Regions from separate parts of the Homo sapiens genome. Here region 2 is reported to be linked to region 1. Evidence: microRNA targets listed by miRTarBase, many of them from high-throughput screens and not tested one by one. Region 1 holds a microRNA gene; the other region holds the end of a gene's coding sequence.

What was found. Region 1 holds the annotated microRNA hsa-miR-526b-3p (GAAAGUGCUUCCUUUUAGAGGC, at 1,553-1,574, shown strand). A microRNA usually pairs through its seed, bases 2 to 8, with sites in the 3' UTR of a target mRNA and lowers its output. Matches are read on the target gene's strand: a 7mer-m8 pairs with bases 2 to 8, a 7mer-A1 pairs with bases 2 to 7 and ends in A, and an 8mer does both.
Region 2: miRTarBase lists FMNL2 as a target of hsa-miR-526b-3p. Seed matches in the 3' UTR shown: 7mer-A1 at 2,295-2,301.

Annotation. Positions count from the first base shown.
Region 1 is chr19:53,692,891-53,697,087 of GRCh38, forward strand. MIR526B (microRNA 526b) reads left to right here and starts at 1,503; the gene lies at 1,503-1,585. It overlaps MIR519B (microRNA 519b), which reads left to right and starts at 2,323; the gene lies at 2,323-2,403. LOC107985342 (a long non-coding RNA gene) reads left to right here. Exons shown (of 3, transcript XR_007067332.1): 3 at 1,139-1,732.
Region 2 is chr2:152,647,545-152,651,741 of GRCh38, reverse strand. FMNL2 (formin like 2) reads right to left here. Exons shown (of 26, transcript NM_052905.4): 26 at 1,916-3,946. The coding sequence ends at 3,837. It overlaps PRPF40A (pre-mRNA processing factor 40A), which reads left to right. Exons shown (of 26, transcript NM_001365597.4): 26 at 1-10. Among named protein-coding and RNA genes, the nearest start is that of PRPF40A, 68 kb to the left of the region's middle.

The DNA.
Region 1 (4,197 bases):
CACGTGGGTTCACGTAGAATTGAAGGGGACCTCAGCGTCCCTTGCAGATGGGATGTGCAATGTATTTGAGATGTACTCGAACATTGCTGTTGAGGTGTGGGCATCTTTTGCTTTTTCCTAATTTTAAATATGGGACTAGTCTGGGTATGGTGACTTCCACCAGTAATTCTAGCACTTTGGGAGGCTGAGACAGGAGGATCACCTGAGGTCAGTTGTTCGAGACCAGTCTGGCCAGCATGGTGAAACCCCGTCTCTACTAAAAATACAAAAATTAGCCGGGTGTGGTGGCACTCACCTGTAATCCCAGCTACTCGGGAGGCTGAGGCAGGAGAATCACATGAATCTGGGAGGCGGAGGTTACAGCGAGCAGAGATCACACCGTTACACTCCTGCCTGGGCAACAGTGTGAGACTCTGTCTCTAAATAAATAAATAAATAAAAATAAAAATAATTAGGTGAATATGGGACCAGCATGGACTTGGGTGTCGCCTTTGTGCAGTGGCCAGGATATTCTATGTCATTTAAATTTTTTTATGTGTACTTCCAAAGCAAGCAGTTATGTATAGGAATTATTCTTCCTATAAGCATGCAATATTTGGAACTTTCTTTGAGACAGGGTCTCAAAAATACATGATGTATATTTCATTTTATATTCTTATATATTATGTACACACAAAATACTCTTCTAAACACAGAGAATACTCCGATATCACCTAGGGTGTGTGTGCGTGTGCGTGTGTGTGCGTGTGTGTGTGGTTCTTTTCTGAGACAATATCTGCCTCTGTCACCCAAGATGGAGTGTGGTGGTGCAATCTCGGCTTACTGCAACCTCCACCTCCCACCTAAGCCTGCTGAATTAGTCTCTACAGGCATGCACCACCACACCTGGCTAACTTCTGTAATTTTTGTACACATGGGGTCTCGCCATGTTGCCGGGGCTGGTCTCGAGCTCCTGAGGCAGGTGATCCTCCTGCCTGGGCCTCCTAAAGTTCGAGGAGTTAGAGGTCTGAGCCACTGGGCCCCACTTGTACTTGTGTATTTCTGCTCAAATTTTATTGAGTAGTTTTTACATCCTAGCCTGTGATCTACTCTGGAGAGTGTTTGTGCATATGACAGTGTATATTCTTCAACATCGTAGACTCCATTTTGGATGCTCCCTTCGTGACTGTGGGTCCTGTACTGGAACTCGAGTGAACACTTGGCTTAAAATCCATTGCTGTTCTCCAGAAATCCTGCCCAATTTTCTCGGTTAAAGGTACGTGTAGTAGGCATTGCTTTTTCTCTTTGGGGACAAAACTCAGGAGGATTGCCCCTTGATGAACAAGGCTAACCTGCTGATTCTTTGAAGCAAGGAACTGGAGATGGTCCTTATAGAGTTTTATATTCTGGATTCCATAAAACATGCATACAGGGTCAATAAATGCATCTTTATTTTTGTGTCTATTTTAACTTGGTCAAAGAAAATTCCAGGAAAAAATCCACGGCATCAGAGCAAGAAGATGTCAGGCTGTGACCCTCTTGAGGGAAGCACTTTCTGTTGTCTGAAAGAAGAGAAAGTGCTTCCTTTTAGAGGCTTACTGTCTGAGAAAAGCAACGTTGTAGTTGATGCTGATCTTTGTAATATCTTTGCAGAGCACGCTTATAATCAGACTTGGATGATGTTGGGGTTTTGTTTTTCTTTTGTTTTTTTATCTAAGACTGGGTCTCTGTTGCCCAGGCTGAAGTGCAGTGGCACAATCTTGGCTCACCACAACCTCCGCCTCCCGGGTTCAAGTGATTCTTCTGCCTCAGCCTCCCAAGTAGCTGGGATTATAGGACTGCGCCACCATGCCTGGCTAATTTTGTATTTTTAGTAGAGACAGGGTTTCTTTAGGAGCTTTTAAGGCCTCCCTTGTAGTCTATCCTGGAGGATGTTTGTGTGTGCAACAATGTATATTCTTCAACATGGTAGATTCCATTTTGACTGCTCTAATCAGGACTGTGTGTCCCTGTGCTGGAAATCAAGTGAACACTTGGCTGAAAATCCACTGCTGTTCTCTAGAAATCCAGCCCAATTCTCTTGGTTAAATATAAGGTATGCATAGTAGGCATTGCTTTTTCTTTCTGGACACAAAACTCAGGAGGATTTCCCCTTGATGAACAAGGCTAACCTGCTGAGCCTTTGTAGGAAGGAACGGGAGATGGTCTTTTTAGGGGTCTATGTTCTGGATTCCAGAAAACATGCAAACAGAGCCAATAAATAGGTCTTTATTTTTGTCTCTATTTTAACCTGGTCAAGGAAAATTTCTACAAAAAACCCAGGGTGCTGGAGCAAGAAGATCCCATGCTGTGACCCTCTAGAGGGAAGCGCTTTCTGTTGTCTGAAAGAAAAGAAAGTGCATCCTTTTAGAGGTTTACTGTTTGAGGAAAGCAACAGTGAAGTTGATGCTGATCTTGGTAATACATTTGCAGAGCATGCTTATCATCAGACTTGGATGATGGTGGGATTCTGTTTTTATTTTGTTTTTTTTTCTAAGACAGAGTCTCTCTTGCCCAGGCTGGAGTAGGGTAGCACTTCCAACGTAGATCTTTTAGGCTCAAACGGTCCTCTTTTTTTTTTTTTTTTTTTTGAGGCGGAGTCTTGCTCTGTGACCCAGACGAGAGTGCAATGGCGCGATCTTGTGTGCAAGCTCACCTCCTGAGTTCAAGCAATTCTTCTGCCCCAGCCTCCCAAGTAGCTGGGACTACAGGTGCCTGCCACCACTTCCAGCTAATTTTTGTATTTTTAGTAGAGACAGGGTTTCACCACGTTGGCCAGGCTGGTCTCAAACTACTGACCTCAAGATCCACCCACCTCAGCCTCCCAAAGTGCTGGGATTACAGGCGTGGGCCATTGTGCCCAGCGGTCCTCTTTTTTGAGATGGAGTCTTGCTCTGTGACCCAGGCTGGAGTGCAGTGGCAGGAACTTCGCTCCCTGTACCCTCCACCTCCCAGATTCAAGCCATTCTCTCCTGAGTCAGCCTCCCTAGTAGCTGAGATCGCAGACATGAGCCACCATACCCAGCTAATTTTTGTATTTTTATTATTTATTTATTTACTCATCGATTTTTGAAACAGAGTCTTACTCCGTCCATCAGGCTGGAGGTCAGTGGCACAATCCCACGTTCAAGCAATTCTCCTGCCTCATCCTCCCGAGTAGCTGGGATCACAGGCGCACACCACCACGCCCGGCTAATTTTTGTGTTTTTTTTGTTTGTTCGTTTTTTTTTTTTTTGTAGAGACAGGGTTTCAACATGTTGGCCAGCCCAGTCTCCAACTCCTGACCTTAAGTGAGCCCATACACAATCAAGAAGAGAGCGAGACCTGTTCTTTTTTTCTGTCTTTGACTATTTGAGACAGTCTTGCTCTGTCACCCGAGATGGAGTACATTAGTGTGATCTTGGCTCACTGCAACCTCTGCCTCCTGGACTCAAGCAATTCTCTTTTTTTTTTTTTTGGAGAAAGAGCCTCTCTGTGTCTCCCAGGCTGGACTGCAGTGGTGTGATCTCAGCTCACTGCAACCTCAGCCTTCCAAGTAGCTGGGATTGCAGACATGTACCCCCATACCAGCTATATATATATATGTATTTTAGACACAGTTTCACCATGTTAGCCAGGCCATTCTTGAATCCTGACCTCAGGTGATTTGCCGACGTAGGCCTCCCGAAGTGCTGGGATTACAGGTATGAGCCACTGCACTCAGCCTTTTTTCCTAATTTTGAATATGGGACCCATTATGAATTTGGGTGTCACCTATGTGCGGGGGCTATGGAAATCTCTGTCACCCCATTCATTTGTGTGTGCTGTCAAAGCACCAATATGTGGGAATTATGCTTTATGTGAGCATATAGTATATGGAACTTTGGTTTTTTTTTATACAGGGTCTCAAAAAAAAATGAGTATATTTCATCACAATGTTCTGTGTATAATTCCATACACACAAAATAGTCTTCTATACACAGAGAACACTCTTATATCACTTTGGAGTTGTTTTTGTTTGTGTATTTTGTTTTAATTTTTATGAGACAGGGCCTGGCTATGTCGCTGAGGCTGGAGGGCAGTGGTGAGATCTTGGCTCACTGCAACCTCCACCTGCCACCTCAGCCTCCTGGATTAGTGTCTACAGGCAGGCACCACCACCCCTGGGTAAGTTCTGTATTTTTGGTACTGATGAGGTTT
Region 2 (4,197 bases), not on the chromosome of region 1:
TTAGAAAAAATGGTATCTTTTACTAAATTGGATTTGTGTCAGTTTTTTCCTTTAAGCACCACTCAGGCAGCAAGCTCTATGCTGTGAGAGTTGCTGGAGGCCCACGTTATGTTTTCTCAGTGTAATTCCTCTTTTTCTTGATAAAAAGACTTAAAAAAAAAAAAAAAACCCATCACTGATTTCACGTACATGTTTGTTTCTTCAGATTTTTCTTGGGCATAGATGGGCTGTTAGTTTAAAAAGAAATGGAAAACAAATCCTTTTGATGAAATCTGATAAATTCATCTTTGGAGACATTTCTGATAAAAATTAGGAAATATATTAGGGTTAAGAAGAGTTATCAAACATTAAATAGGTATGTGTGGCTGGGCACAATGGTTTGTGCCTGTAATCCCAACACTTGGGGAGGATGAGGCAGGCAGATCACTTGAGCTCAGGAGTTTGAGACCAGCCTGGGCAACACGGCAAAACCCTATTTCTAGAAAAATTAGCCAGGTGTGGTTGTGCGTATCTACAGTCCCAGCTACTCGGGAGGCTGAAGTGGGAGGATGGCTTGAGCCCAAGAGGCAGAGGTTGCCCTGAGCCGAGATTGTACCACTGCATTCCATCCTAGGTGATAGAGCCAGACCTTGTCTAACAAACAAAATGTGGATTATGGAGCGAGTATAAGAAATGTATCATCTATTTATTTTCCAGTGTAAAATCACCTTATTCTACAGAGAAGATTCCAGTATGTTGAACCAAAGCAGAGTCAGTGATGGGTATCAAGCCCTATTCTATTGAGAGCAGAGTTGAGTCAGGATGGCCACTGGGCACTGCAGTGAATTTCAGTGTTAGATGATGGGGAGTGGGGAACGTGAGTATTTAATTCAAAGTCATTGGTAAATACCTTTTAAAAGAAAGATGAATGTTACTCTATCTGCCTCATTTGAACTTAACTGCTGTAGTTGAGTTTGAAAACATTCTGAATTTGTGGAATATTAAAAGATTTTTCTTTTACCATTAGGCACCAGTCTGATGGTAAAACAAAAGTAGAGATCCTTACTGATCGCAAGACTTTTTCTCTCATAAAATAAAGCTTCTAACACATTGTATAACTGGTTTAGTGGAAAGTGCACTGAATTGCGAACAAAAGACCTAAGGCTTTATTATAGGCATTTATTAGATTGCACCCTGGGCAAGTCAGTTTGCTGAGTCAGTTTCCCAATGTGCACAACAGTGTTAAATACCTCACAGGCTTCTTGTGAGGAATAAAGATTATTGCCTTTAATCTGTAAGCAGTTGTGTGTGACAAATGCAAAGTACGCTGTGGTAGTTGTGACAATAATTATATAAATTATAATTCCTTAAATGACTATAATATATATGCCTCTAAATTTAAGCCACTTGAAAGGTATTCTAAAATTTAAAATTTTTCTTGTTTCCATAAAAAGAACATATGAAATGTTACACATAAACTTTTGATGACTGGGAGTTTTATTACAACTGTTTGTGCAATGGGGGCCAAACTGCTTGTTTGCCTTGCCAACTGGTATGGTTATTGGGTGCAGGGTTAACTATGCAGTTAATATATAGCCTATTATCTTTATTTGTACAACATCCTAATTGTAACATTTGGTGGGGCTGCTGGGGGCGTTGTGGCATTTCACCAAACAAAGGTGCTGTTTACCTAGAAGGTGTATGTTTATAAATGCAATTTTGGAGATGTAGTCTCACTTCCAAGATCCATTGTCTATGTTTTATATAGCAAGCGGTCAAGAGTTCACATAGGGAGGAATCCTTCCTGACGTTTACCAAGTATATTTGGATTCTGAGTTCAAATAGCAAGATATATTTGTTTCTAGAAGGTAAGTCTACATAATATTGCTAAAACCCCCTAAATTGTACCATTGAAAGATTACAACATATTACAGAATAGTAGTGTAAATAGTTTATTATTTGCTCATATGCCATGAAAAGACCAGAAAAGTAACATGAATTGCTTTTATAAAACATTCTAATATTGCTAAGAAGCAGGCCCATTAATAGACAAACAGAAAAGAACATGCCAACGTTGTCTATTTGTAGATTAATAAATAGGCAATTATTTTAATATACATATATGTCAGCATTGAACTTTGGAAAACAGCTGCTTTGTAGTGGAAGTCCAACTTGGTCAAATTGCTATTTTTAATCGAAGTGAATGTTGAGTCCACAGAAAGACAAAATCGTGGCATGTTCTTTTTAAAGTAAAGTACACATTTATGGGAATGTGCCCGCAGGTGGCAGTTTAATCTTTCTGTAAATAGGTACACTAAAGTGAAATGTGGTAGGTAACTTGTTCCCTAAACTGTCCTTATAGTTAAATATATATATTAAAAAAAACTATAAGTTAAAATAACATTCAGATTGTATAGCATAGGCTGATGCATTTTAAAACAATATTTACAATATTACCCAGAGGCTTAGGTGGGAATTAAAGAGAAGTGTAAAAACCATAAAAAACTGCACCGATTTTATAGCAAAATATCTGTACATTTAAAAAGATCATATAACTACACATCCAAGGAAAAGGGACCTTCACCAAGGGGTTCACATAAGCACAACATAAAATAGGAACTTCAGCGGTTAAATACTATACAATAAACTTTACAATTAATATATTGATGTACCAAGAAGATAAGCCAGAAGCAGAATGTATATTATGAAAAGTACAAATTTAGCTTCAGTCCAGTTTTTGACTTTGGAATGGATCAAGTGCCCTGCCAGAGAGGAAGGAAAATAACAGTGGCTTAGTGGGCCATCTAGTCCCATTACGTATTATTTAAGCTTAATACCATGTTAATACTTTTCAGCAACTTAAACTGCAATTCTCCATAAGTAGTCTGGGAAATGCATGAAAAACTTAGCCTCGATACACGATGCCAAGTGTATCTTCTTGAATTTATAAAAAATAAGAAAAAATTGCGATTGTCAGAGGAGAGTAAGGCCAGGTTCCTAACACTACTCTGCTAGCAGATGTAACCTTGAATGCTTGTTGATAGAGCTAGTAAACTTCCTTGCAAGGCACCAATTTCTGTTCTCAGAATTAATAATGGTCCTCAGAAATGCTAATGCTGATTACTGAGATGTTAATTTTAATGCTAATAAATACACTTGCATTATTTAAAAAGCTGCCTCTAGCTGAAGAACACAGTACTGCAAATAAGTCTTATACACTATATCCCCACATTCATACTAGTGAATGCCTCTCACAGAGCATCGTTCTCTAGCGCAGAAGTAGTAGAATGTGAAACTGGAAACAAAGGATTGAGTGACCTTTGTGCCACTGCAGTTGCATCCTGTTTGCACTTTGCCAGGGCCTGGTTATAGACAAAAGGAGTTTCATCATGTGACTTTCCTTCTTCCAAATTGCAAGTAAAATACAAAGTTGATGGATATGGCTAAAACAAAATTCCTTCGAAGACATCTCAGCAAAGGACCCACAGCAGATGCATTGATGTTATTTACAACATCAGGAAACCAGGTGGGCCATGATGGGACAATCACAATGGCAGGTAATGAGTTTAATAAGAACTTTACATTTTGGTTAAAAATAACATACTGGTGTAAAAAGATACCTAATCAAATCAAATCCTATTGCTTTGATTAATCTGAACAGGTACTTCCATTTTTAGGCACTTGTTAACAAGGGTTGAAAGGAGAGCTCATTTTAAAATTCTTCCGTGTTTGCTAAATCTGAGCCCTTAAGAATATTTTTGTGTGTGTTCAAGGCTGCAGTTAAATCGTAGCACATAAAGTTCATGTGGGCAGTTTCATTCACGCACACCCTGTATTCATGCAGGCCAGTCTCAGGTTCACATTGTTATTTCGGCACCATTAACAGAACGCAAGTTCTGATCATCAAAGCGCCGCCTGACGCTTCTCCTCACCGCATCGGCTCGTCTGTATGGTTGGTTTCTAAGATCTGTAAAGGGGAGAGTGCCAGTGAGAGAATAGCAACCTTTAATAGCATGTGTCTAAGCAGGACAAAGGCCAGCTGGCAGCCAATCAAAGCAGCTTGTGTAGAAAAGTCAGCTAATGGGCCCTTCAAACTCACTGAGCATTGAATCAAAGACATAAAACATTTGCCTTCAATATTTACAATCAAACAAAACAGGATGTAATACTGGTAGGATTCTAGGACTTTGAGAGAAAAATACATAGATTATTTCTGTC